Linked DNA regions of Homo sapiens. The protein of the gene in region 1 interacts with the protein of each later gene in a biochemical or structural test. Each region holds a gene or a part of one and is shown in the gene's direction. Other genes may lie near its edges. The genes, in order: GNAQ, GRK2, RGS4 and RGS2.

Region 1 (7,672 bases):
AAAGTTGATTTAGGTGGAATTAATATAGGCTTCCATCTGGGTTTTGAACAAAAATACTGCTTCCCAACTTTCTGAATACTCTAGTGATGGCTAATTTTCCTTGGTGAACGCATTGGAGGCAAGATTTTGAAGCACAGGGTGGAAGAACATTTTACAGAGGGAGCCAAGCTTTGGTGCACACAATCTGGCTAAGGAAAAAAAAAAAAGAGAGAGAGAGAGACTGTCATGTGGTCAACATGTGGCTTCTTTCACTGGAAGATCTAATTTTCATTCATTTAACAAATGTTTATTAAACATCTATTATACTCCTGGCATTGTTCTAGATGCTGGATTCAGGAGTGAACAAAACAGACAAAAATCTCAGCCTTATTGAGCTTTACATGAGAAATCATCAAAAGGAAATGAACGTAATGGGTTCATTTGCTTATTCATTCATCAAACATTAGCTTCTCTGGCTGAAACACTATTCTACTCAGCTTAAAATGAGCTCCCATCTGACAAGCCTTTTAGAGTCTTCCAGTCTACCGGGACTTTGGTGGCCTTCAAACTGTAAAGTACAGTACTTCCCTTGATATTGCTAACCCTGGATAAGCACAAGATAGATACATTTGATTGGAATCAGAGTATTACCCGGGTACGTTTTTTGAGCTTGGTAAAGGAAAGATGTCACTGAGGTACTATGCTTCATTTAGATTCTAGAATATCTGCTATATGATTTGTAATGTGGGTATTTTCTCTTTTAGAAGATGTGCTTCGTGCCTAGTTTTTCATCTTCAACATGTTGGCCCTGCTCTTCTTTCAACAGGACAGTTCCAATTAAGAATCTCAGTTTTTCTGCTGTTATAAGAATGTTCCTGTAGGTGGCGCCATTTGCAGCTCTCAGCGTCTCACTAGGTCGGCTTCTTTTTCTTCCCCACGAGCAAGTCCACTTTATTACTTGGCCAGACATCTCTTTCCCAGCTCTTGTAGGATCTGCGATGCTCTTCAGGCTGATTTCTAAAAGGTCTTCTGGGTGACCAGCGTGTGCTTCCTCATACTCTGGGTTAATTTGAATGGCAGCTTAGGGAACTGCTTCTCTTGAACTTTGTTAGCAATCCATTTTCCATACTGTATGTTAGCAACGAGTGTTTCTCATTTTGTATTGTTTATTCTTTGAAACACATGGCCTGTCTCACCAAATAGATTATGAAGCCTTTAAGGGCTTTGTATGCCTCAGGCATCTGGCATAATACACTGCCTGGGACAGGCAGTCTGTAAGTGTGTGTTTGTTGATGATGTAGGTGGTAGCATTCTTTTGTTTATTCATTATTTACTGAGTAGCTGTTCTAGGCTAGGCTCTCTTTCTGGTGCCTTGAAAACAGTTATGAAAAACATGGTCCCCGCTCTCAAGAAGCTCCTAATTCAGAGGGGAAGGGGGCAGAGAGAAAGAGAACACAGAGAATGACAGTAGTATGGTGCATATGAAGCAGCCATGCTAAGTGACTGGGAATAAGAGAGGTACTGTATATTGCCTGTGTCTGATGACCTCTATGGGCCTTTCCTTCCCCAGGAGATCCTTTTAGAAGAGCATGGCCTTTTCATTCTTTGACTGCAGAACCACTCCTTAAGACTAAACTATGCCTTTTACTGTTTTTCTTTGCCAGTCCCCAAAGGACAGGGTGATATGATTGTGGGGTTGGAGATCCATCTCAGGATACCATAGAAAAGGTGACAGTCTTCCTATTTTTCTCTGAAGTTCAATTTTCCTTGGGTATTGCAATTTGCTTTTCAGCTCATTAGTAATTGTCCTTGAATTCTCAAAATGGTTTATCATCTTACTCTCTGTGTGGGGTGACTTGGAATTGCTCATTTACTTTGAGGTGATGTAGGTACCTATTTATTGAAAACCTTTTCATTCTTTAACATGCATGTCAATGCCCCTTTTCCTGCCGTATCTTTTCCAGTTCTCCCCTTCCTTTTTATACCTTTATGTTGTTACTTCCACCCCAAATTTTATACAAATTGATTTTAGTCTTGTATTATAGCTGCTTAGAGCCTCATTATAAGACTATAAGCCTATGGAGGGTAAGGACTGTATTTTATTCATTTTAGTATCTCTCTTATCCTGTACCTTCACCTGTTATTTACACATAGTAGGCAATGAATAAATGCTTGTTGACTGAATGAACTGGGATTTTGTAACATAATCCCTGTTTAGTTGCATGTTTTAGAGTATGTGCTTGTAGAACATGGTCAACTATCAGTTGTTTCTGCATGGGTTCTATTTGTTTGACTTAGTCTCTAGGAATATTTGCTTGGCAAACGCTCTCCAGATAATATGAAAAGGTTTTTGGATAGATCTGGGCTCAGACTTGGAATTTCTTTTCCTGTTTCCTTCTTGACACCCATATATGGCTTTATCACTGTAGAGTGTTGGTTTTTCTTACTTCCTGGTTTCTCCCCAATACTTGAAACATTCTCCTATTGATTCATTGCATCCATTTAAGTATCTAAGTTGCCAGGGAGTGTTCATGATGTTGGGGGGATACAGGGGGGACAAAACAGACTCTGACTCTATAGCCCGCTGAAACAGATGAATTCATCAAATAATAGGACAATTCAGTCAAAACATATTACCTGATAGCCTGATGGCTCATTTTAAAAGACATTTTTAAAAGTCTCAGAGGATCCCTGGGTAGGTAACCAGAGACTTCAAGCTTTCTGTCATTTGGTTTTCCAGTGTTCTGTGTCTCTCCAAAGCTCATATACATACATATATTCGGAGGATGCAAACTTAAAATTTTTTCTTCTGAAGCCACTTTCTATTTTTGCATACTGAATTTCAATCTTTAATTTCTTTAGTCACTTGATTTTAAATTTTAATTTCATAGCAAGTCTAGCTGTTCTCTGTAGGCATTCACATAAAAGGGTTGAGGTTTGCCCTCTCTGCTCTCCAGGGCAAGGTGAAATTTAATTATTTTCTAGGTTTTAAACAGAGAACCTAAAATATATATTTTATATCTTGACTTGCTTGATTTAAATCGTGGTTTAGAGTGTGTGTATGTGTGTGAAACGGTGGAGTAATGGCAAATGAAAGAAAGAAGGAAGTTACACACCTGTTGTCTAAGAACCCTATATGAGTTCTTGATCTGTAGCAAAAGCAGAGTCATGACCGTACCTTACACTCTGGATCAGCAGGTTGCACCAGGGACACTTCAGAGAACACATGAAACGTGAAAAAGCGGTTCTCTTCATAAAAGACAATTTTCTTTGAAGACCTCAGGTTCCTTTAAGGCAGGAAGCAATATGAGTTTCATCTCCTGGGCCTGATTAAACAAGATTATTTTCGTGTGCTATTTATCAGTAGACGATCACAATGAAATGTGCATACGACAGTTTACTGCCTCAATCACATATTGCAAATCAAAAAAACTAGAATGCCGTTTTGCTGGGGCCTCCTTAGTTTCTCTTCTATTTCATTCTTTCCTTTCCTTTTATTCCACATTATTTTACATTTTCCCATAAGTCATCCATAATTCAATCTCAGTCTAGAAGAGTAAATTCGATTACTCGGCGGCTAAACATCGTGTGCCTTCTCAGAAACAAGAGAACTTGTAAAACAAAAACAAAAACAACTTAAAAAAACAAAAACAACCAACAACCACCAAAAAAACAAAGGCATGAAAAGTTGGAACCTATCGGGAGGCTCTTGGAAACTTGGGCAGCTTCCTTTCTCTGTTCAGGATTTAGATTTCTATCTCACGTTACTTTGCGAACAGCTTCGCCTGTGAATCTCCCCCTACACCTCTGGGCACCGGTGCCAATTCCTTCCCTTCCCTTCCCCAGTAGCCCCACACAGTATAGAGGAGCTTATTTTCTAAGACTGCACCGGTGTCAGAGGTGACGTGAGAGTTTCTAACCGAATGGCGTTTTAGAAATAGGAACGGGAAACACAGAAACGGCTGAGGAGCGACCCCGTGGAGCAGACAGGCACAGCCCGGGAGCGGCGGACGCCAGCGCCGGCGCCGCAGGGAGCGCGTGCGGGGCTCCGCGGGGCCGCCTCCCGCGACTTCAGCAGGGGCCGCGGCCGCGCTCCCGGGCCGGTGGGCTGAGGCAGGCAGAGGCCGCCATATTCCTGTCTCACCACGCCCGGCCGGACGGCAGCCGCAGGTCGGCTGCGGCCCTGGCACGCAACGGCGGCCGCCGGCTCGGGCTGCGCGTCGGCGGCCGGGTCTGGCCCCGACTTCGGCCGGGGGCGGCCGTGACTGCTGCGCCCGCGGACTCTGCCGAGGGTGCGGGAGCAGTAGGCGTCCGCAGAGCCCGCGGGGGCCGGCCCAGCCCGGGAGCCGCGCGGGCGAGGCGAGAGCCGCACTGGGAGGCGCGCCGCGGCGGCCGCGAGCCCAGGAAAGCCTTCCAGGAGGGGCCGGGCGGCACCGCCTCCCGGCTCCCTCCTCCCGCGCCCATCCCCTCCGCCTCTTCCTCCTCCTCCTTTCGCCGCCGCCTCCTCCCTCCCGGATCTGTGCTCCAGTTCAGAGAAAGAAGAAAATGTGTGTGTGTGGCGAGGGGGAGGGCTCGCACTGAGCAGCCGCTCCGCGCCTGGCAATCGGGGCAGGGGGTGGGCGTCTGGCGGGGGCGGGGGCGGAGGCGGAGGCGGAGGAGCGCGCGGTTGCCGGGCGGGACGGGAACCGGGTCTGCGCGCGAGCCGGGCGGTGGGCGCGGACAGGGCCGAGGGCGCCCGGGAGCCGTGTCAGGCGGCGGCGAGGAGCGGGCGCGCCGGGCGCGGGGAGCCGTCGGCGGCCGCTCGCTGCGGGGACACCCCGGTGAATGAGCTCTCGCCGCCAGGCGCACGGCGTAGGGGAGCCTCGCAGGCGGCGGCGGCGGCGGCGGCTCGGGGGGCGAGGCGGGCCGCCTGTTCCCGGGGAAGGAGGCGCGGGCGTCTGAGCGAGGCCGGGCGCGGCGGCCTTCTCTCACGCGCCCCCCGAGCCAGCGCCCGCCTCCCGCGCCCGCCTCTCTTCTCCCGTCGGCCCAGACTATCCGCTCCCACCGCGCCCCCGGCCCACCTGGTGGCCCCGGCCCTGGCCGCCGCCCCCGCGGCGGTTCCCGGAGCTCGTCCCGGACGCGCGCCCGGGCGGCGGGGGCTCGGCGGCCACCGCTGCCTCGGGGGAGCGAGGGCGGGAGGGTGTGTGTGCGCGCTGTGAGCAGGGGGTGCCGGCGGGGCTGCAGCGGAGGCACTTTGGAAGAATGACTCTGGAGTCCATCATGGCGTGCTGCCTGAGCGAGGAGGCCAAGGAAGCCCGGCGGATCAACGACGAGATCGAGCGGCAGCTCCGCAGGGACAAGCGGGACGCCCGCCGGGAGCTCAAGCTGCTGCTGCTCGGTGAGTACCGTCCGGGGCCCCGCCGGGCCTCTGCGCCCCCAGCCCACCATCCTTGGCCCTGCGGGGCAGCTGCCTTCGGCGCCCCCGCCCCCCGGCGCCCGCGGTTCGCCCCTACCCTCCCGGGCGCGCCCCCGGCCACTGCCTTCACCCGCGCGGGCGCGCGGGCGCGTTACACACAGACACACACACACACACACACACACACACACACAGCGACACACACACGCAGCACAGGGGTCGGGGCTGCCCTGCCCGGTGCCTTGGCTTGTTCCTTTTCGTGTCCCTGAGGGCTGTACCTTATCTGCTGTGCATCTGCTAAATGGCAGATCACTCCGACCAGAGGCGCGGGGGTGGAAAGGTGGGCAGAGGGGTTGAACTTCCAGTGTCGTGGCCGCGGCACCCCATGGGGTGGTGGCGTGGGGAGCCGTGTGTGTGGCCCAGCGGGTGGCGAGCGGAGCCGGGGCACGTTGGGGGATGGCCTGCGGTGGAGTGGCCGGTGTGCATCCATTATCAGTGCCCTATGGGGTCAGGAGGGAATGGGGGAACGGTGGGCAGACTCGCAGCTGGATTCCCGGAGCACTCATGGTGAGGAAGCCAAGTGGTTGGCCCTCCAAGGAAAGGGTCTGTGTACTGGGGGCGAGGCGGGAGGGCAAGCCCAAATGTGTCACACAAGTGCTGTTCTCTAGCCACCAGACCATCGAAAGGAGGGAGCCTAGAAGAGTTGGCCAGTGGATGGTGACAGGCGTTATTCTCGTCTGCACCATTCCTTCTAGATAAAGATGAGGGTAGGGGAGCGTTGTGCTGTGTGGTTGTTGACAGCGACCGGTATCTTTTGTTTAATGAGGCAACCTAGATGTAGGCCTCAGTTCACAATAGTTACTACCGAAAACCAGTGCAGTCTCTCAGTTACTCTCTTGGCAACAAATAGAAACCTTTTGTTTAAAACAGATAGCATTTTAATGTCTTTGGAATCTGGGCGAGAAGGAAAAACGGGAAGCATACAGGAAAAATTTCCCTCTAGTCTTGAAAAAAAAATTCTGCTTCAACACTAAGTTAGCAAGAAAATGCCATTTCTCAAATAGAAATTTATTGATGATTATCTCTGGGAGGATGTTCAGAATCAAGCGATCAGGGTTCATATACAAGCCACAGTGACAGAACCCTGAGCTACTGTGGCAGGAAGAGCAAACAGCTTTGCAGTAACGGGCCTGAAAAATGTCTGCACTTGTGTTCTGGGTATTTGCATGTATAATAAATGTGTTTCTCAAACATTTCTGTAAGAAAAGAATATTGTACTGTTAGTTGGTGTTTGTGAGAAGCATGCATTTTCTTTCTTATCTTGAGCATTCCATTTGCTGGCTCAAGGAACCAATTGCCTTTGGGAATGAACTGCTTATGTACTGGATCATTTACAAGCAGGAACAAAATATACTGATCACACACATAGTTACTAATAGTTAATTCCCATGACATGCTTTCTTTATGTCTTCATTTTGAAACTCAATTAGATAAATGTGCACATGTTTATAAAAAGCAGAAGGCAAAAGCACTGGATGAAAGAGTTGGGCTTAGGGGAATGAAGCCAGGGAGGAGGCAAACTGCAATTGGAAAGTAAAGATTTTTTTTTTTTTAATTCTCATTTTGAGCTACTTCTAGTGGCTGAAAACAGGCAGTTGAATGTTTTCTGAGTTCTCAAGGTTGAGAAGAAAATAAAGAACAAAAGAAATAAGAGTGTTTTAAGTGTATAATTAAGGGGAAACGCACGTATTTTAGAGAGACTTGTTTTAAGAATTGTGTTTTTTTTTTATTTTATTGCCCTGTTGACAGTCTTTGTTTCTGTTTAATTGTGAACTGGGCAGTTGAGGTCTCTCCAGCCAACCCTATTTGCCTGAAAAGTGACAGCTCTGAGTTTCCCAGCAGCTAAGAGTTAAAGCCCAGGGAGTTTCTCAGTGGGCCTAGGTTTGAATGTCTAAGGGAAATACACTTACATGGATGCTTAATTCCATACTGTGTATTTAAATAACACTGTGCTTTTAAAAATGAACTTGGAGATAATTTTCTGAGAAAAAGTGTAAACCAATTTTACTGCTAAAGTGGTGGTAGTGTGGAGAACTTTTTTTTCCTCTTATTAGCGGAACATCATGCAAGAATTGCTACTGCTTCATGTTCTTGGTATATTGCTTTTGCAACATGAATACTACAATACTTACACTATTTCTGTAGTAATATACGCTAAATGTGGATTTGTGCGTGCGTGTATGTGTATGAGTGTGATTTCAGGAGTTTTTGAATCCAGGACGGTTGATTTCAACAAGG
Region 2 (7,030 bases), on another chromosome or scaffold:
GCCAGGCCCTCCCCTATGGCCATACCAAGCAACCCAGGGCAGGGGTCACATTTTATATCCAAGTACTAGGGACACACGAACCAAGGCATGGCCTTTTCTTACAATTTAAAAAATTGAGATGCAATTCATATAAAATTCATCATTTTATTATACAATGTAGTGTTTTTTAGTACATTGACCGTGTTGTGCAACCCTTACCCCAAAAAGAAACCCCGTCCCCACCGCAGTCACTCCTCTCCCTCTCTCCAGCCCCCGGCAGCCACGGATCTGCGTTCTGTGTCCGTGGATCTGTTCATATGAGTGGAATCTCACAATATGTGGCAACCCTTTGTGACTGGCTTCGTTCAGCCTCATGTTTTCAAGGCTCATCCACGTTGTGGCCCCTGTTGGTGCCTTGTTCCTTTTTACAGCCGAGCCATGTGCTGCTGCGTGGAGATGCCACATGTGTGTCTTTTCATCCGCTCACAAACCAGGCTTGGCTTTTGTGACTTGGCCAAGTTCCCAAAGCCAGCCGGTGGCATCACTGGGACGAGACCCCACAGGCGGTGGGCCTCTGAGCAGGGGGCCACCTGCCGGCCACCCTGGCCTTTGAGGACACAGCCTGGCGGGGGCGGTGCAGGCAAAGGCTTCCTTGAAGCCTTCTGGTCTGACCTGTGGCTGGGATAAGTGAGTAGGCCTGACGGGCTGGCCTCCTTCCTGGAGGGAGTGGCGACACCACCACAGTGCCCTCAGCTCGCGTTTCTGGGCCTGCAGCCCCCACGGGCTCTGGGGGCTTCTGCTTACTGCGCCCCCCTGACCCACAGCATCCGCAGTGTCATGCAGAAGTACCTGGAGGACCGGGGCGAGGTGACCTTTGAGAAGATCTTTTCCCAGAAGCTGGGTGAGTATGGCAGTGGCTCTGCCAGCCACCGGACTTAACTTCTTGCCCCTACCCCAGCCAGCCCAGCTGTGCTCCCCACTCTCCAGAGATTTGGCCTCCCATCCACTCAGGGTGGAGCAGCCAGCGAGACCCCAGGGCTTGCTCCAAGTCGCTGCGACCCTGCGTGCCTCCTTGCCCCTGGCTGTCGGCCCAGGGAGCCCCGTGGTGGGGGTGGGGGCCCAGAGTCTTCCAGGGCCGCCAGGGAAGTTCCTCCTTTGGGGTTTTTGTTTTTGAGAGTTGCAGCTTCCCCTTGGCGCGGCCGCAGCTGCTCTGGGCCGTTGGTAGAACTGACAGGAAGAGGCGGGGCCCTTCCTGTGGCGCCTGCCGAGCTGTGGTTGGCCCCGCCCCACCCCATGGGCCCTCTTTGTAAGCAACCTGCCTGGTGTTGGCCCTCCATTCCTCCTCCAGCTGGTGTCTGATGCCTGCTGTCAGAAGTTTCATGTGACCCACCCTGCGGACCTGGCCCGGAGGGCAGGCTTGGGGCAGGTCTCGGGAAGCAGGCTCCAGCCCCACATGGCTCTGATTTGGCCTTCCCGAGAACAGGAGCTCAGCTCTGGACAGGGGGTATCCTGGCCTGATGGGATCAGGCATTGGGGGTCAGCCTGGGGGAGTCGGTGTGTCAAGAAGCACAAAGTTTGGGTCCCAGGCCTGTGCCTTTTGTCCTTGGGCAAGTTGCTTCACCTCTCTGAGCCTGATGGTGTCCTCATCTGGGAGATGGGACTCATGAGTCCGACTGTGCAGGCCTGTCAGAGTCAGATGGGAGCACTGTGCCCACTGTGAAGCCTGGCCCCCATTCCTCAAAGGCCCTGCACTAAAGGCCAGGCAGTGAGGACTGAAATGATGGCCGCAGCTCTGACCCAGGTGCCCAGGCAGTGCCCCCGAAGGCATGAGAGGCCACCCAGCTCGAGCCTGGTTACCCGTGTCAGACTGGAGGCCTGAGGAGGGCCTCTGTCCCCTGGTAGTGCTCGGGGGCCGGGGTCCAGGGTCCAGGCCCCTTACTCAGGCATGAGGACACCCTATCTGGGGTCCCCTGAGAGCCCCTCCCACAGCCCACCTTGCCTCTCCAGTTCCCTGTGGCTTACACCCGTTCCATGCCCCCTGCCCTGAGGCCCCAGCCCCAACCTCTTTCCCAGGGACCTGCCATTTGGTGGAGTAGCCCTGAGTTCCACTTGAGCCTCTGCCACAGACAGTGTGTCTGACCAGCTCCCTGAGCCCTAGTTTCCCCAACTGGACCCACCCTCCCTGCCTGTTTCTCAGGCTGCTGTGCAAATCAGCCAGACACTGGAGTGGGGCAGGGTCCAGAGGAGTGGTGTGGCCTCAGAGCCCCCTGCTAACCTTTTCCCCATGCTGCAGCCTGACCTGGCCCCGGTGGCCACAGCATCCCAGGGCCCCCAGACTGAATCGTGTTGCACCTGCACAGCCCGCCCCGGTGGGGGGTATCGGCCTCACAGAGCAGGCGCAGGGCCCTGGGCTGCAGTGAGTGGGGGCCCAGGTGCTAAGCCAGGGCTCCCTGATGCCAGAGCCAACCCCGCTCCTCTGCCTCACCCTGGTGCCCATCGCCGTCCAGCTACCACCTGGGGAAACAGATTTCAGGAAGAGGGTAGAAACACAGGGGCCCCAACCCAGAATCCAGGAATCTTCACGTTGGCAGCAGCCTTAGCAGCTGCCTGGCCCACCCCTTGCCTGGGGCCGAGACCACCTTTGCCACCTCCATAGCCAGTTCTGCCCAGGGAGCCCAACCCACACCATCCACAATGATGGGAAGGCCTCTGAGAGAGGCGTGGCTCTGTGACCTTACACTGTTGCCTTCAGGGTACCTGCTCTTCCGAGACTTCTGCCTGAACCACCTGGAGGAGGCCAGGCCCTTGGTGGAATTCTATGAGGAGGTGAGACCCAGAGGCCCAAGCCCTGCTCTGCCTGGAGAAAGGGGAGGAGGTTGGGGCGGCTTTGTGGAACCCACAAGCTGCCTGGTGTGGGCATCCCCATTCCCTGCTGGGCTCTAGATGACCTGCAGGAATCCTGTCCTCCAGATCAAGAAGTACGAGAAGCTGGAGACGGAGGAGGAGCGTGTGGCCCGCAGCCGGGAGATCTTCGACTCATACATCATGAAGGAGCTGCTGGCCTGCTCGCATGTGAGTGTCCTCAGCTGGCCCTGTGTGCTGGCCCAGAGTCACCTGCAGATTGGGAGGGGAAGAGAGGACCCTGCTGAGAATTCATGGCCACCTCTGTCTTCCCCAGCCCTTCTCGAAGAGTGCCACTGAGCATGTCCAAGGCCACCTGGGGAAGAAGCAGGTGCCTCCGGATCTCTTCCAGGTGTGTGCCTCCCGGTCCCTCCCCAGGCAAGGTCACCTTGGACAGCCCCTGGTCAACAAGCCTGGTCAGCCAGGGGTGGGGCCTGGGCAACCACGGTCTCTCGGGGCTCAGTCACCAACTTCCAGCTTCCTCCCTTAGCCATACATCGAAGAGATTTGTCAAAACCTCCGAGGGGACGTGTTCCAGAAATTCATTGAGAGGTGAGAGCAGGGAAGTGTGGGAGAGGAAGGGGGAGGGAGGGGCCGCTCTCAGAAGGGGTATGGCTGGCGTGGAGGGCAGAAGCCAGCCTTCATTAGGCCCTGAGCAGGCAGGTGGCTGGCCCGTCAGCGGCCCCCTTGCAAGGACTCCTGAGAAGTCAGACAGGCTGCAGGTCATCTCCCACCCTGCCCTCCTCAGCACCAGGCAGCTCAAAGCCCATCCCAGGCAGTCTCCTAGCTCCAGGGAGCTAGGAGAGCTGTGCCACCTGTGCCTCTTTCTCTCCCGTGGGCTGTATAGCACCTTGCTGGCCCACCTGGACTGAGAAGCATCAGAGTCCTGGTAGGGGTAGGCCCAGTAGAGCGCATGGCCCCCGTGACCCTCACAGCCAGAGTTGGCGCGGTGGGTGGGAATTGTAGGTAGATTTCAGCCAGCTTTAGGGAGCAGCTGTTTTAGGGTCACTGCTGCCCAGCCATGGAGTGAGCTCTGTGTCACTGGGGGTATGCAAGCAGGGACAGGAGACGTACTTGTCAAGGATATGGTAGCAGGAAGTCTGGGTTAGACTGGAAGACCTCCTTTCTGTGCGGATCTGATTCCAGCAGGAAGCCACGGCCAGGTGGCCGAGGGCCATGCTGGGCACCCAAGCAGCCCTGACTGGTGCTGTGGGCGGGCAGGCCCTCAACATATCCTTCCTGGAAGAGGACATTAACGCTCGTGATGTTTCCACACCTACCCTCACGGGACCCCAGGGAGTGGCGGCTGGGTGGGGAGGCTCACGACAGCATCATCCTTCCCACATTCTGAGTGGCCCCTGAGCCCTGATTCTTCTTTTCCAGCGATAAGTTCACACGGTTTTGCCAGTGGAAGAATGTGGAGCTCAACATCCACGTGAGTGGGCTTGGGTGGGGCATGGAAAGCCACGCACCCTGCTGCTCCTCTCCCGGGAGCTGGGCCTGTGGCTTGGCTGGGAGGGGGAGGTCAGGGGATGTCTGTCCTTTAGCCCCCAGGGCCGTGGCTATGGGGGTCAGGGCCGGGATCCCAGCATGGGGAGGCCGGAGCAGGTAAATATGTGGCAAGGATGGCCAGGACATGGGTATGGGGACCCTGGCATGGGGCCAGCCCCTGCTGCCCAGGTGCCTCTGCCCCAGGGCTGGGCAGAGGCAGCCTGTGGTGACCGCAGCTGTCGCTGCCCCTCAGCTGACCATGAATGACTTCAGCGTGCATCGCATCATTGGGCGCGGGGGCTTTGGCGAGGTCTATGGGTGCCGGAAGGCTGACACAGGCAAGATGTGAGCACCCTGCTCGGCGCGGTGGGATACCTCGGGGAGCCGGGCTCCTGGGGGACCCTGACAGGCCGGGTTCCACACAGGGCCACCTGCTGCTCCATGCACTCCTGTCTTGCCGTGCTGTTACCCCCGCAGGCTCCTCTGGCCCCAGCCCTCCCTGTCTCTGATTTGTGTCACACGCTGGTCCTGGGTCTAGTCTTTCCCTCAAGCGCCCCCTGAGGCAGCCCTGGGCCCCTGCTCTGAGGGTGGGTGTTGACTGCCGACCTCTGCCCCGTAGGTACGCCATGAAGTGCCTGGACAAAAAGCGCATCAAGATGAAGCAGGGGGAGACCCTGGCCCTGAACGAGCGCATCATGCTCTCGCTCGTCAGCACTGGGGTGAGCTGGGTGGGCCGGGCTGCCGCTGAGGCTCTGGAACCCCGGGCGCCCCTGCTAACTGCCCGCCCCCTCCCCTCCTCTCCCCTCCTAGGACTGCCCATTCATTGTCTGCATGTCATACGCGTTCCACACGCCAGACAAGCTCAGCTTCATCCTGGACCTCATGAACGGTGAGTGCTGGCCGGGCCCTAGGGTGGGCCGGGCCCAGGCACGGGAGGCTGGGGCAAGACACTGAGTGCTGCCTGTGGGACTGCCTCCCTCAGGTGGGGACCTGCACTACCACCTCTCCCAGCACGGGGTCTTCTCAGAGGCTGACATGCGCTTCTATGCGGCCGAGATCATCCTGGGCCTGGAGCACATGCACAACCGCTTCGTGGTCTACCGGGACCTGAAGGTGAGCGCCCCTGCTGTCCCCAGGCTGGACCTCCGTGGCTGTCCTCTCCTTCCTCTCGACATCCCGGCCACCAGGCCCAGAGGAGTGGGGCTCCTGGGACATGGCCGCCCCGTATCTTCCCATCTCCGCCCCTGCCCTTCCCACCGAGCCACTCTCTGGGTCCAGGTTGTAGCTGGGGACAGGAGAGAGGACCCCCACCTTTGCCCTTTCTTTGGGTACCCATCGTCCTCTCCAGTGAAGCAGTGACCCAGCTGGCATCTTGCCTGGCTGGGCCCCATCCTGAGCTGCCCCAGGCAGCTCACTGGGCTTCCTTCACAGCCAGCCAACATCCTTCTGGACGAGCATGGCCACGTGCGGATCTCGGACCTGGGCCTGGCCTGTGACTTCTCCAAGAAGAAGCCCCATGCCAGCGTGTGAGTGCCCCCCACCCTCTCCCTCCCCACCCCTTGCCACTCCCGCTTATGGCCCCCTTGCTCCCACAGGGGCACCCACGGGTACATGGCTCCGGAGGTCCTGCAGAAGGGCGTGGCCTACGACAGCAGTGCCGACTGGTTCTCTCTGGGGTGCATGCTCTTCAAGTTGCTGCGGGGGTGAGTGGCCCATCCCAGGTGGGCAGGTGGGTTGGGGCTAAGAGAAGTTCCTCCCCAATCCAGGTGGGATGCCAAAGGAGGGGAGCCCATAGCTGCCTTGGTGGTAGGGTTGGCACCGTCCCTGACTTTGGCCACAGCTCATCCATGCTGCCTGCCTCCCTTTCCCCATTCCTGTCCTTTGACATTGGTTTTTGGCCTTTCTTGCCCAGGCACAGCCCCTTCCGGCAGCACAAGACCAAAGACAAGCATGAGATCGACCGCATGACGCTGACGATGGTGGGTGCAGGTCTCAGTGCAGGGCCGCAGGGGGCTGGGGGGAGCTCCTGTGGGTGCCAGGCCATGACTCTTGCTTCCCACCAGCCAGCAGAGATCTGGGCCACTGACCCCTACTCTGGCCTCTGAGACAGACCTCCTGCCCCATAGGCTCTCGCCCTCCCCGTGCTGTTGGAGCATGACTGCTGGGCGAGCTAGGATGCTGTGCCCCATCTGTCCCTCTGCGGGGGCCTGGACCCCTCTCTCCCCTGAGCTGGGATGGGGTCAAGGGCTCTTCCTAAGCCCCTGCTAATGTCCCACTCCTCTCTAAAGGCCGTGGAGCTGCCCGACTCCTTCTCCCCTGAACTACGCTCCCTGCTGGAGGGGTTGCTGCAGAGGGATGTCAACCGGAGATTGGGCTGCCTGGGCCGAGGGTGAGTACCCTGGCGCCTTGGGCATGCTGCTGGCTGTGCCCCCATGAGGACAAGGGCTGTGTCCCGTCACCTGGAACCCCCTCCAAGGTCCCAGCCTCCTTGGAGGAGCTCATAAGTTGGGGCATGGCCAGCCCTGTCCAATGTTCTCAGAGTGGAGGGGCTGCCCTGGGAGTTGGAGCTGCTGGAACCAGCTAGTAACTGGCTTCCAGAGGGGCCCTTGTCACAGATGATGATGATAGCAGCTTTTTATGTTTATCAAACATTTATTAA
Region 3 (6,961 bases), on another chromosome or scaffold:
TATAATGAAATGGCATTGATGAAATGATGGCATTCAAGGACCTGCTGTACCTTGTTTCACTTAAAGTCACTGTTTCCAATAATCTATTGATGACATTGAGGACTTACTATATAATAATAAATATATATATAATCGACGAAACAGGAATCAAACTGCTAACTCTGCTAACTGGTCTCCCTGCTTCCACACTCTGCCCACTCATCTCAGTCTTTCTTTCACAAGAGTCAGAATGATCAGATGAGACCCCTCCTCTGCTTCTGTTTCTTCCATGGATTTCCACTGCACTCTGATAAAGTCCAGCCTCTTGACCACAGCCTACAAATCCTTGCACGATCTATCGTTTACTTTTCCATCTCCTTTTATGCTACTTTCATCTTGTTCTCAATTCTCTAGCTATGCTGGCCCCTTCTTGTTCTTTCCCATTTTTTTTTAATTTTTAAAATTTGTATATATTTATGGGTTATAAGTGAAATCTTTTTAGATGCATAGGTTGTATAGTGATAAAATCAGGGCTTTTAGGGTATTCATCACCTGAATGATGTACATTGTACCCCTTAAGTAATTTCTCACCATCCGCTGACTTCTTGCCCCCTGGGTATTCATCACCTGAATGATGTGCATTGTACCCCTTAAGTAATTTCTCACCATCCGCTGACTTCTTGCCCCCTGGGTATTCATCACCTGAATGATGTGCATTGTACCCCTTAAGTAATTTCTCACCATCCGCTGACTTCTTGCCCCCTCATCCTTCTGAGGCTCCATTGTCCATCATTCCACACTCTACATCTATGTGTACACATTATTTAGCTCCTACTTATAAGTGATAACATGCAATATTTGTCTTTCTGTGTCTGTCTTGTTTTACTTATGATAATGGCCCCCAGTTCTATCTAGGCTGCTGCAAAAGGCATGATTTCATTCTTTTTTATGGCTATGTTCTTTCCCAATTTAGATAAAGAACACTCGCACTTGCTCTTACTTCTATTTGGAATACTAATTCCTAGGCTTCTTGCATTGCTTTCTCCTTCTCACCCATCAAATCTCATTTTAGATACCACCTCTTCAAAGAGGGCTTTCCTGACCACCTTGGCTGAATTAGCCCTTCACCATCTGATTACTCTCTAGCACATCACCTGCCCATTTTATTCATGGTACAGGTCAAAATCTGGAATCACCTGATTTGTTTATTTTCTGACTCCTTCTACTGAGATGAAAACTCTACTAGAGCGGAGATTTTATCTGCTTGTATCAGGTACTGCTTCAAACAGCACCTGATACAGAGTAGGTGGTCAAAAGATATTTCTTAAACAAATGAACAAATAAAAAGTAGATCTTTTGAGAGTAAAGCTCTTCCACACTACCAGAGTCATTCAGGAATGACAAATCATAGAATAACAGAATTTGATGCTTTGTGCATATCAGAGAAAGAAGGTGGAAGGTTGTCAAGGTATCATGATGTACCAGTCCTCGCCTCCTCAAACACAATCTGCAAGTCCCACAGTGAAAAAGTAAGTTAACTCATGTGAAGCGTTTTACAAACACTTTTTTAAAAGTCTTAAAACTCCTAAGAAAGCAAGATTTAATAGTCAAAGAAGTGAGTAAACATGAAATGCCTGAACAGAGTAATGAGCTAAGCACAAAGTTAGAGACATGTTAGTTAATATGTCTTGAAAGCAGCAGCTCCTGCTTTCAAGGAGCAAGAACAAATTGGGCAAGTGAACACTCCTTGAATAAAATGTGTAAAATTAATTTTGGGTTATGTTCTATACTGTGTATAATAGAATGATAAAAATTATTTGACTAGCACTTTGTAGTTTAGAAATATCTCTATTTACACAGTTTACCTTATTTGATAAGACTGTTGAGTGATGGGATAGCATGGTGGACAATCCACATAACTGAGTATCGAGACACCTGTATCTGGACCCAGCTCTGTTAGTAAGAAGCTGTAACCTCAGCAAGTCACTTTCTCTTTCTGGGTCTCTATTTCCTTTTTGGTGAAATGAGAGTGTTAGGCTAGATTGCCTTTGAAGTCCCATTTTGTCTTTAAAGTCCCATCTATTGCAGTGATTTATATTTAACTCATGACAAATCAGGCTTCTCTTATTCTAAGTGCAAGACATAAAACTTTTATTGTGGAATTTCAGGCATCAGTAAATCTTTTTGGGTACTCACTTATGTTCCTGAAATCAATCTATTTGAGTGATCACTCTTTTAGGTGCCCAGGTAAACAAAGAAGGCCATGGTCTTTCTTTGAGTGACCTTCTTTCCCTTTTAATTAGTCTGACCTCTTTAATGTCAGTTCTGACTGATTCATTTCCCTGGTCCATCTTCCTTGGTCTGAGGGCCTTCCTAGTTTCATATTGCACTTCAGTTCCTTCCACACCACCATCAAGGATGGCTGTCAACATTCATTTGTTCTATGTTATAATTCAAGGAAAAGTTGCCCAGTAGCTAATCCAATAAATGCCCTCTTATGGGCGGCTAGAGACTTTTTCCTATAATTTAAATGCATCTTCTGTAGATTATGGTCCCTCCACCACTTTACATTTGTCTGCTGTCTCCTTGCTCTGCTAGTCATGGAACGTGTTGGTAGTGGGGGCAGTGTGGGATGTTCAAGGGCACGTATTGGGTAGGGCCACATATGGGCATTGCTTTGTGCCATTCTTTCTATATTTTTGGTATTTTGCATCTCACTGGAACCCAACTATTTTTCATCTCTTCCACCTAAACTATTTGATGCCTCTGTTTCTTATATATAAAGTATAGCTCACTGTAGCCTATGATCAGGAACCTATCTGCTTTCTAAATGAAAGCTGTTTTGGTCAGATCTAGCAATTAATTCCCTTCTTCCACTTATAGCTTTCCTCTGTAACTCTGGTGTAGGTATTTGGTTTATGGCTATAAGATGTGAAACACCTGAATGATTCTGTCCATGCAGGCATTTCAGTTCATGATATTGTATGTAAAAGATACTGATTGTCTAGGTGTTCAGAAACACCTATAGGGCTTAATATTCTTACAATCAGTTTGAAGGCTGGTGATACGCAAAGCAAACTACATATTTTTCTGCCTGCTCTCTCTCTTTCTCTCTACATCTCTCTTTCTTTATCTTTTGAAATATCAGTTTGGAGACTTAGAATTACATAAGACATAAACCCATTTGATATAAGAATTGCTGTGTATATTTGCTCATCTACTCCCTCCTTTGGTCCTCGAGCTGCCGGTTTAGACTTTTTACAGGACGCAGGCATGTGAAGGAGAAACTGTCAGTGCTAGGCTGAATTCTGTTGTTACCAAGATTTCTAGAAAAGTATTCCTCAGTCAGGTTGATTACAGATATAGCAAATCTATTTTTCCTAGGGTAGTTTCTGTATGCTGCCGGGCTTATAACTGTCTGTCATCCAGCTATTTCTCTCCACCTTCTTGTTTGCATAACAACCAAGGCAACTTCCGCAAATCACTGCGTGGAGACGATGATCCTGCCAGCTCCCTTTTGGAAATCGTGAGGATCAGATCTTGGACCATGTATAATATGATGCTTCTAATCCAAAAGAGGAAAGGCATTGGGAGTCAGCTCCTAAGTAAGCTCCAGAATTCCTGCTGGTACTTTTCCTTCCAGGAAGCAACTTCCTTGATATTTTTTTTTTACAGGCATATGAATAAAAACTATATTTTGCAGCATTGTACACTTTTTTTCCTTTTCTAGAAATTCTAAACCTCTGACATTGGTGGAGACATTGAGTACATTTTTTCCCATATCCCTACTTTTCAGAAGGATTTTCTCTGCTCGTTCACTTAACATTGCTGATGCGTCAGTCTTTTCTTCCTCATCTCTTTCAGGGGCTGGAGAGGCAGAGGGAGACAGAGGAGCTGGTACTGCAGAGCGGTCGTCTGATTGGCTGGACGGTCGTAGCTGGGCTATAAAAGAGACCCCTACAGGCTTAGCAGGAAGACGCTCAGAGGATTCTGACAATATCTTTACCGGAGAAGAGGCAAAGTACGCTCAAAGCCGAAGCCACAGCTCCTCCTGCCGCATTTCTTTCCTGCTTGCGAATTCCAAGCTGTTAAATAAGATGTGCAAAGGGCTTGCAGGTCTGCCGGCTTCTTGCTTGAGGAGGTAAGATTGCTTTCAGCCATTAACCATATTAAACTTTTGGCTAGACTTTCTCAGTTATTTACATGTTGTACTTACTAACCTAGTTCTGTGCAATTAGAAACAGTGTGGTCAGGAGAGCACGACTTTCTAACTTTCCTCCAAGACTAGCTAGATATTGTGACTTAAGACATGTGCTCCCCAAATTTCAGCCCTTATGTGTTGTTTTGTGTGACCTCAGTTTTGAGAACTGTTCTATTCTTTAAGCCAGGTCTAAGAAAGCTAGTTTTAATTAAGAAGCGAGATGAGGTTTGAGGCTATGTACAGTGATCTGTAATATCTCCATCTGTGATTACTACTGCTATTTGAGCATCCCTGGAGTACATAGAAGCCTGGCTCTGGGCTTTCTGATTGTATGCTACAACTTGTTTCAGGAAAGGTACCCCAGAATGAGGTTTGGCTCCATCATCAGAAAGGCACTATGCTTTCCGTGTGGTGGTGCAGTAACTTTCACTCTCTATGTTCTTATAAGCAAATGTTACAATGAGATATGAGTTTTAAAGCCAGATCTTCCTTATCTCTCTGCCCCATCTCTAGTTCTTGAAGTGTCTCATATGAGTTTGGTTGAGAAATATTGATCATTACAAATCAGTTAATAGTTTTGTAGAAGATCTCATCTTAAAGACATTGTTTTGTTAATATACTCCCTTGATTTTTTTAAAAGACCTTACAGACATACAGCTATTCATTTGTTTTTGGTTTGTTCAAAAAAGGTATAAAGAAATGCATTCAGAGAAAGATCATATATTAGCCAGTTGAAAATTAAACACAAAATGAGTGCATATTACATTACTTAATCTTGCAGTCAAAGGTAAAAAGTCAACCTAAAGGTATACTACCTGCTTTCTTATCGCACTGCAAATAGAAATTACCACAAATTTTATTTTGGAAATAATCTCAGAAAACATAATTTTTTATGTACTATTAAAACATTTACTTTCCAAATATTCTGTCATTCAGGAGTATGGAAGTATCGATGGCTTCTTTAAAATGAAGCAGGAGGGTCTGGCAGAGAGTATCTATGAAATAAGTTCCTCTGACCTTCACGCTTAATTTTCTGAATGGAGTGGAGCAAATTACTTCAAGCTTCACTTAACTTGCATATGAAATGAACCGTACAAAAATACAAGAGTGTCAGGAGAAAGTTATGCTCTGGTAAATATTTTGCAAAACAGATAAAAGATAATACTAGAGCTCTGTCCTCAAAGAGTTAAGCAGCTAATCTAAGGAGGTAAACTCTATGTCAGCAGGATGAACTGCTCTTCCCTTTCCTCCTCAATAAATTGCAAATCATCTAGTCCAACATCTTTACCACCAGTGCCTGAGGCTCCAGAGGAGCCATTGCCTTCTCAAGGTCACATAGGTGGTGGGTGAGTTAGGACCAAATCTAGAATTCCTGACTCCAGTAACTTCTGAAGTCATTTTGTTTTTTATTTTTATGGTTTTATTATAAGAATACTTGCTAAGCACACTTACCCCCTGCATTGATTAATAACTCTAGGATCTCAGGTGGATCCAGCACATAGAAATATGAATTCGTTTCTATTTGGACTTCATGATATATTTACATTATCACCTTGGAATCACCCTAACATTCAGGATTGTATCTTGTTATAATCAAAAAGGATGTTGCATCCCCTGAACAGTCATCAGTCAGGGAAGCAGAGGAGGGAAAGTAATCTTGCGAGGAAGAGAAAATACTATTTAAGGGACAGTCAGAGAACATAATGGAATTCAAACTTTCTGGGAAAACCTACATACATAAATGTATTAGTGGCCATCCTAAATGTCTTTATATCTTTGAGGCTTTATTTTCCCTACTCCAAATAGACACATTTAGTTATTCATTTCTTTTAAAATGGTATTTCTCTTTTTAAACTATTTCTTGACTTTTTTAATAAAAAGAGATGCAAGCAAGAGGATATTTAATAAAAAGTAAGAGAGTTGAGCTTAAGGCTTATTAAAAGACCCCCTTTTTCTAGTTAGTCAGGAGCTCTAATGTGCCCTGGCTACCTATTAAATGGTGGCAATAAACTGGAAGCTCAGTGATGACTCTAGCCTGCTTCTCCTAATAGCTGTTAAGCCTCAAATGCCCTTTAGAGTGTGTATGTCCTTTAAAGTAGCTATTAAGAAGGAAAGCAGCAGCAGCAGATATTGTCTAGAAAGAAGCCCCAAGAAGCTGAGGTTTCAGCTTGGGCATTTGTTTTCGCCATCCCATGCTCCATTTCCCTCTGCTGGAACTGTGCACCTCAGTGTATTCTCCCTCTATACCTCACAGCAGGAACTGCTTGCCCCCCCCCCCCCCCCCCAACATACATGGCTGGAACTGAATAGACTTTTACTTTCCCGAGGTGCTTCTACAGTTCCCTCTGCCAGCAGGGGAACAGATGGAAATAGCAATCACCTGCCAGAAGGTGGCGTGCAGCAAGGATGTGCATCTTTTGCCGCTACTGCTTTCTGATTCCTAAAAATTACTCAGAGATCACTCATGTGTTCAGTGATTCAGGTTCTGTTGAAGATACCAAAGATATTCGGTTGGTCAAAATGACGGGCATATAAAGGCTTCTCAGGTTTCTGAGGTAAACTGAAGGGTCAGAATTCCAGTTGTGGATGAAGGAAATGGTGTTATGACTGCCTCAAGGTTTTGTAGCAAGTCATAGGGAACCAAGAGGAATCTTGTTTTCCTCAGAGGTCATGCCAACTCCAACTCCCGTTCCCTAAACTGTCTCTGAGCCATAGACTAGTAATGGACTCTTCAAGCTCTACCATTAGGTATCTTTTAAAGAAAGCTGGTTATTACTATTT
Region 4 (7,276 bases), on another chromosome or scaffold:
ATACAAGGATTGGTAAAATTATTAACTTAGCTATAATACATGTCAAGTATTAGGTTTAACCTGTGATTCATTTCTGACCAAAACACTCATTTTCTCTCAGCTTCTGGGTATGAAAATTACATTCTCAAAAATTAATCATAATTTTTAAATCTCAGATCATATCAGGGGTTAAGGAGTATAGTACAAAATCTCATGAGGTCATATTTTCATTCTGTTAAAAGAATATTTCACCAACTAAATAGGACAAAAAAATTTTTTAAAGACAGGCATTATACTTCTTTAAATATATTCAACAACTAGGGTAATAAAAGTTTTCATTTTTTCCAATTACTCATCACCATATAGCATGTAACTTCCTGATTTTTTCCTTTTTTTTTTTTAACTAACCCACCTATTTAACATTTCATAAGGTAAACGATAGGTTTACAGCTCTTAGAAATTTGGAAACTAAAATATCTTACTAACTGAAAAAAGCAAAGCACAGAATAATACATAGAATGATACTTTTGTGTTTTTAAAAGCAAGTATCTTGGTTCCTAAATTTCCTATTTTTATTTATTTATTTCTTTATTTTTAATTTATTTTTTTTTTTTAAGAGGCAGGGTCTCCCTCTGTCACCCAGGCTAGAGGGCCGTGGCACCATCATGGCTCACTGTAGCCTCAAAGTCCCTGGGCTCAAGCAATCCTCCCACTTCAACTGACTGAGTAGACGGGGCTACAGGTGCATGCCACCATGCGTAGGTAATTTTTTTTTAATATATTTTTGTACAGACGGGGTCTAGCTATGCTGCCAAAGCTGGTCTTGAACTCCTGGGCCCAAGCAAGCCTCCTTCCTTGGCCTTCCAAACTGCTGTGATTACAAGCGTGAGCCACAGCATCCAATGGCTTTCACATTTCTAAAGCTTAAGTAGGTGAGTTATTTTATATAAATATTTTTAGTTAATAGGAATAGGAATTAATAACTTTTATTAATAATGGTTAGCATAGAGTGGGAGCAGAAGGGAGAAGTATGACAGGGGAAATTTTTACTCTTCATAATTTAAGACACGCAAGATATATAATACAAGAATCTCAGATACATTATGCAAGAAACTTGTATTTTTTCTTTGCCTTCTTCTATAAACTTTTAAAAAAATATAGAAAGTTCATAAATTATCTGGAAAACCTCCACCACTAATCTGTTCAATCAATCTCTCCAGTAGAGGGCATGGTAGGTTCAACACAGAAAATGTATGGTTAGGTTATCAGCCACTCTCAAACTGAGGTTTTGTTGTGCAACTTTTACAACCCACTGCATTGTTTCTTCCTCTACCACAGGATGGAAAATATGTGTCATCTTTATGTGGAGCAATTCTGTTTACCTAAAAGCCAGTTGCAACAACAAAAAGGGAAGTCATCAAAGATTCCAGCTTTTGTTTTACCTATATATACGTAAATATATGTAATGCATATGTAAATATACATGTAATACATATTACATATATGCGTGAAATATATGATGTATATATTCATGTCACATATATTACATGTATATGTAAATATACATATATTGGCCTGTCTTTTAAAAGACATTAACATGGCAAGTTTTTGAGGAAAAGGTTTCTATAGCAGGTACTGCCTTAACTCTTAAAATTACATATAGATACAAAAATTACAAGTTGATTTATATCCAGATTTATTAACCAACCACATAATTTTCAGAGAAAAATTAATTTTCTGCCACCTAACATCAGTCACTGATCTGGAAGGGTTTATGAAAAAAGCAAAGAATTATATTAAACACAAAAACATCAAGAATAATCTATATTTAAACCAGTTGCTTATGCAGGTACATGTATATTCACTTTCATTAATATATTGAGATGATTAAACTTCCTTGGCTTGGAGATATCTGAAAAGTGTAATTAATTATTATTATTATTTTAAGAGACAGGGTCTCACTCTATCACTCAGGTTGGAGTGCAATGGCACAATCATAGCTCACTGTAACTTGAATGCTTGAACCTCGAACTTCTGAGCTCAAGCCTTCCACCTGCCTCAGCCTCCCAAAGTGCTGGGATTTCCAGCATGAACCACAATACCCAGCCTGAAAAGTTTAAATGTTAATCAGTTTCCTTATTTTTCCTACGTATTATCCAGTGAGCATTTATTAAATATCTATAATGAGCTTAATCTTCTACAAATTTGTGTATCTTGTGTATTTGTGTACCTACAAATTGAAACATCTTGATATTTAATAGTACCTACATATTTATAACCTAATTACGTCTGAGTTAATCCTCGTACGATTTTTTCCATCTTGAACAGCTATGATTTGAACATTTCCTTTTGCCACACATATGCAAATCAGTAATAAACTTCCGTACAGTACTTTAGAGCTTAGAAAAGACCTTTCATGTAAGAGTCACATAATATCCTATGAGGCTGGCAAGAAAATACATGTTACTCTTATTACAGATGAGAAACTGGGACTCAAAGAGGTGTGAAGCTAGTGTCCCAACAGTTACTTAGCATTTACTGGATAAGCCCAGGCTCTAACTGGGTCTCCTGACAGAAGTCCAGCTCTCTCTCTCTGCTGCCTCTTTGTCAGAACTCCTGGCCTGCCAGCGAATTTAACTGTCTATGAGTAAATTCTAACATCTAAGGTTCTAAGTATAAAATATATTGAGGTTTACAGTGGTGAGAAAAAGCAAGTGTCTGCGTATTACAGACAGCTGATAAATACGTATTGAGTCATCAGAAAGTGAAAATAGATGTAGGACTATTATGCAAAGCATAGGAGAGGAAGAGCATATGCTTAAGAAAAAATGGCATTCCTAGAGTTAACAAGCATGTTTCAAAGTATCTATTACTGAAATCTACACGATTTTCCTTTCCACAATAAAGTCCACAACTGTTGTCTTAAATAATAACTGCAGGTTTTGCCCTCCAAGTCAAACTTGGAGCTCCAACTACTGGCAGCTCACCGTAAGAATATATTAATTATTTCCAATTTCCTTTTAAGAAGTCGAATACAAAGTAGAGAGAATATCTGCAGCTTGGTTGCAAAGCCGCTTAAACATTTCACTGGCTAGTTCTGGTAATATTATCCGAAATCAACTCATTTTGTGGTTGAGGTAATCTATTTGTCTTTACCAATCAAGTCGTTTTAAAACCTTCAGGAGTAGAGATGATACTTGAAGAATTAACAAATAAAACTTAATCAAGGAAACTGTTAACTCATTCTCCCCCCTACTTTTTGCCAGTTATTAAATGTTCTGGTAAATCCTAACTCAACAAGAATGACTCATGAGGAAATCCTGACTCCTTGAACTCACTGATTCTGGTGCATTACAGCTATGAAATCTCTATGTCTGCAGCTTTCTCTCCCACCATAAGGAAATCTGTGATTTCTATTTTGGCAGGAGATGTGACCAAGGACTCCTGAGGAATGACCCTATAGACAGACCCAGCCACGTGCCTAGTAGTGATCAAAAATGCAAACCCAATTAAAGCACTGTCTTCTGATAAAGTCACTTTCTCTTGTTCAATCCCTAATGTTCATTCTCAAAGTGTTCCAAGACGCCCCAGCAAGCTGCAGAGCAGATCCCACCCTGCCCCTGGGCAATCAACGTTTCAGGTTACTCCTTCCTTAAGTTAAGTGGCAGAGAGAAACGGGCGAGGGTCTCCCCATTGCCTCAGTTCACAGACCAGGGGGTGTCGAATGAGTCCTACAGCAGGACAGCAAACAAGAAATGAGGCGCGGGGTCAGGGAACGCGCTCAAAAAAGGAAGAAAAATCCCACTCTTCATTCGAAATCAGGCCACTGCACTCCGGCCTCGTGGCGGGCGACCTCCTCCTGCCAGGGAATCGCCGCTCTGGCCTCGGGCTGGGGAGCCCGTCAGGGTGGGTGAGGGAGCGCCGGCGCCCCCGCCGGGCCGCCGCCAACTTCGGCTCCCTCCCTCCGTCGCAAAGCCCTCGAGCCCGCCCGGCCGCCACGCTTCAGCAAAAGGTCGTGCGCAGCGGCCCACACTGAAGACTCTCCATCTGCTCCCACACCTGCCCCAGCTGGCCGCTGCTATGTGGCCCGAGTGCGCAAGAAGCCGGGGCCGCAGACGTCAGCAGCGCCCCGGCTTCGAGACCCTTCGGCAGCAGCCGTGACTGCCGCCGGCGGGCGCTGACCCATCCCCGTGCCAGTCTGCAGCCGACCAATCCGCGTCCTCTTGAGGCGGGGCCGGAGCCGCGAGGCCCCGCCCCCAAGCCGAGGCCTCATAAATGCTGCGACGCACGCCCAGCCGCAAACAGCCGGGGCTCCAGCGGGAGAACGATAATGCAAAGTGCTATGTTCTTGGCTGTTCAACACGACTGCAGACCCATGGACAAGAGCGCAGGCAGTGGCCACAAGAGCGAGGAGAAGCGAGAAAAGATGAAACGGACCCTGTGAGTATGGCTTTCTTCCCTCTCCCGCCACCCCCTGCCCCACACTGCAAGCTGCAAACGCGGTACTTTCGGGCTCGCCTTTGACGTTAGGAAACTAGCCTGAGCCTATGCAGGGAAAAAAAATCGAAAAGGTCAATTTGTTAAGTAAGGTTAAATCTGGGTGATGCTCGGGTACAGTTTAAGAACCGAGGGAGACAGTTGATATGAGGGCGGTGGTTGATGCGCTAAGAAATTGCGGGTTGGCTTTTTGTCCTCCTGCATTCAAAATGACATCAGAATCCTGCGGCTGAAGCGCGTCCCCAGCATTCATACGTTGCATGATGAGTTCTCATCAGCTTACACAGCTACTGGAAGGTGATGCTCTTGCTGGTTCTGAATATACTCGTTTAAAATCCATTTTTGTTTTTTAATTATAGAGCAGATCTCACCCAGTCCGAATGTGGAACAAATAATTGTTATGCAGCGTCTGCTTAAAAGAAGTGTCGTAGGTGGGGAAGGAAGAGCGCAGGGGAATCAGTCACCCACCTCTTTGTACAGTCTCTGGCGTGGTCCAGAACCTCCTGCTCTAAAGAGAGAAGCGTGGGCCGGCTCCAGACAGTTCCATGTCTGTCCTTTTCATTAAAGTGCAAAACGTCTCGGAATTGTAATTAACCTTGCAAACAAACTGATGCCCTTTGTGAGCCAGAAATAGTGTCTGCCTTTTGAACTAAATTCATTAACAATTCTTTAAAATACCCTAGTGATTATAGGTAGCCCTGCCCTTAGTTGTAAAACTAGTAGATACGGTCAGATTAATGGACGAAACTGCTCAGTACATGAGGTTTAAATGTTAGGTGGATAAGACTTATTTGAAGAGTTCTTGCTTTGCCTTATGCGGTTTGTCTCTAGTTACTGGGTGACTTTATTTGGTAAAAATGCGTTCAGCTGCAGTAGCATATTCAAGTGTTGCTAGTTAGTAATTATCTTTTTAATTTTTTGTTTTAGTTTAAAAGATTGGAAGACCCGTTTGAGCTACTTCTTACAAAATTCCTCTACTCCTGGGAAGCCCAAAACCGGCAAAAAAAGCAAACAGCAAGCTTTCATCAAGTAAGTTGAGAATCCTGTGCTTGCAAATATCAATAGTTAGCTGCTGAACTGAAAAGGGGAACTCTGATGTGCGTAAGCTAACATACAGAACCTCTCTTGCAGGCCTTCTCCTGAGGAAGCACAGCTGTGGTCAGAAGCATTTGACGAGCTGCTAGCCAGCAAATGTAAGTTAACTCTTGAGCTTGAGCCATTGCTAACATCGCAAAAGCCTGGAAAGGCTGCGTCCACCTAACAAAAGAGCAGCTTGCCTGAGGGGGATTAGACTGCAGTCACTATAGGATAAAGCCTGTTTTTCTTTCCTTTATTTCCCAGGGTTTAACAAATAAATGCATATATTCTCTCCAGGTGGGGAAGAAAATCAGCCTAAACAAATTAAAGTGGCAGTTGCTTATAGTTAAGGTTGAGTCAGTTTTTCCATTGCATACAATGTTTTCAAGAGGCTTAGTTCCCAGAGAATTTATGGCTCCCCTATAAATATTTACTTTGCATTGACAGCAAAGTACTTATATTTTTGCAGCAGAGTGCCAACATAAGCCTTTTGCCTACTGGTATCTTAGTCTTTAAAAAGCTAAATTTTGAGAATTACAGGTTTGAGCGAAATCTAGAAAATTCATTTAGAAATAATTAAAATGTGAGGGATAGGAGAAACATAAGGAATCATTTGGTCTCTCAGTTCTTCACATTCTGCATGCTCTCTTTTCTCCCCCCTTCAGATGGTCTTGCTGCATTCAGGGCTTTTTTAAAGTCGGAATTCTGTGAAGAAAATATTGAATTCTGGCTGGCCTGTGAAGACTTCAAAAAAACCAAATCACCCCAAAAGCTGTCCTCAAAAGCAAGGAAAATATATACTGACTTCATAGAAAAGGAAGCTCCAAAAGAGGTAAGGAAACAAGTTCCTAATTTCAGCACAATCTGGACATCTTTAGCACAAAAGTGAAACAAAGTAATCAAGGACAAAGCGGGCTAGGAGGGGTAAAAAGTCCCTCCACGTTGTAGCTTTCAGTTATGTTAAAGTTCTCCTGTGACTTAGCTAGTAAAGCTAATCACACATAATTTTTATTTTTTGTTTTCAAATACTAAATTTTAATCTTTAACTCTGAATACCAAATAAACAACTTTTTTGTTTTATTTCAGATAAACATAGATTTTCAAACCAAAACTCTGATTGCCCAGAATATACAAGAAGCTACAAGTGGCTGCTTTACAACTGCCCAGAAAAGGGTATACAGCTTGATGGAGAACAACTCTTATCCTCGTTTCTTGGAGTCAGAATTCTACCAGGACTTGTGTAAAAAGCCACAAATCACCACAGAGCCTCATGCTACATGAAATGTAAAAGGGAGCCCAGAAATGGAGGACATTTCATTCTTTTTCCTGAGGGGAAGGACTGTGACCTGCCATAAAGACTGACCTTGAATTCAGCCTGGGTGTTCAGGAAACATCACTCAGAACTATTGATTCAAAGTTGGGTAGTGAATCAGGAAGCCAGTAACTGACTAGGAGAAGCTGGTATCAGAACAGCTTCCCTCACTGTGTACAGAACGCAAGAAGGGAATAGGTGGTCTGAACGTGGTGTCTCACTCTGAAAAGCAGGAATGTAAGATGATGAAAGAGACAATGTAATACTGTTGGTCCAAAAGCATTTAAAATCAATAGATCTGGGATTATGTGGCCTTAGGTAGCTGGTTGTACATCTTTCCCTAAATCGATCCATGTTACCACATAGTAGTTTTAGTTTAGGATTCAGTAACAGTGAAGTGTTTACTATGTG

The links.
Region 2: the proteins of GNAQ (region 1) and GRK2 form a complex in vitro, tested with the Homo sapiens proteins (3 studies listed by BioGRID).
Region 3: the proteins of GNAQ (region 1) and RGS4 form a complex in vitro, tested with the Homo sapiens proteins (3 studies listed by BioGRID).
Region 4: the proteins of GNAQ (region 1) and RGS2 form a complex in vitro, tested with the Homo sapiens proteins (one study listed by BioGRID).

What each region holds. Positions count from the first base shown.
Region 1 is NC_000009.12:78,028,784-78,036,455, reverse strand, and holds the start of GNAQ (guanine nucleotide-binding protein G(q) subunit alpha), read left to right. Parts: upstream 1-4,644; 5' UTR 4,645-5,220; coding exon 5,221-5,356; intron 5,357-5,534; exon of another isoform or gene 5,535-5,714; intron 5,715-7,672.
Region 2 is NC_000011.10:67,276,469-67,283,498, forward strand, and holds part of GRK2 (beta-adrenergic receptor kinase 1), read left to right. Parts: intron 1-803; coding exon 804-880; intron 881-2,731; coding exon 2,732-2,805; intron 2,806-2,949; coding exon 2,950-3,051; intron 3,052-3,157; coding exon 3,158-3,232; intron 3,233-3,370; coding exon 3,371-3,432; intron 3,433-4,263; coding exon 4,264-4,315; intron 4,316-4,624; coding exon 4,625-4,716; intron 4,717-4,990; coding exon 4,991-5,090; intron 5,091-5,181; coding exon 5,182-5,260; intron 5,261-5,353; coding exon 5,354-5,484; intron 5,485-5,802; coding exon 5,803-5,897; intron 5,898-5,966; coding exon 5,967-6,074; intron 6,075-6,283; coding exon 6,284-6,350; intron 6,351-6,659; coding exon 6,660-6,760; intron 6,761-7,030. UniProt on the Homo sapiens protein: Specifically phosphorylates the agonist-occupied form of the beta-adrenergic and closely related receptors, probably inducing a desensitization of them. Key regulator of LPAR1 signaling.
Region 3 is NC_000001.11:163,065,409-163,072,369, forward strand, and holds the start of RGS4 (regulator of G-protein signaling 4), read left to right. Parts: upstream 1-4,076; coding exon 4,077-4,120; intron 4,121-6,496; exon of another isoform or gene 6,497-6,735; intron 6,736-6,961. UniProt on the Homo sapiens protein: Inhibits signal transduction by increasing the GTPase activity of G protein alpha subunits thereby driving them into their inactive GDP-bound form. Activity on G(z)-alpha is inhibited by phosphorylation of the G-protein.
Region 4 is NC_000001.11:192,804,763-192,812,038, forward strand, and holds the start of RGS2 (regulator of G-protein signaling 2), read left to right. Parts: upstream 1-4,276; 5' UTR 4,277-4,309; coding exon 4,310-4,419; intron 4,420-5,403; coding exon 5,404-5,505; intron 5,506-5,607; coding exon 5,608-5,669; intron 5,670-6,218; coding exon 6,219-6,385; intron 6,386-6,639; coding exon 6,640-6,834; 3' UTR 6,835-7,276. UniProt on the Homo sapiens protein: Regulates G protein-coupled receptor signaling cascades. Inhibits signal transduction by increasing the GTPase activity of G protein alpha subunits, thereby driving them into their inactive GDP-bound form.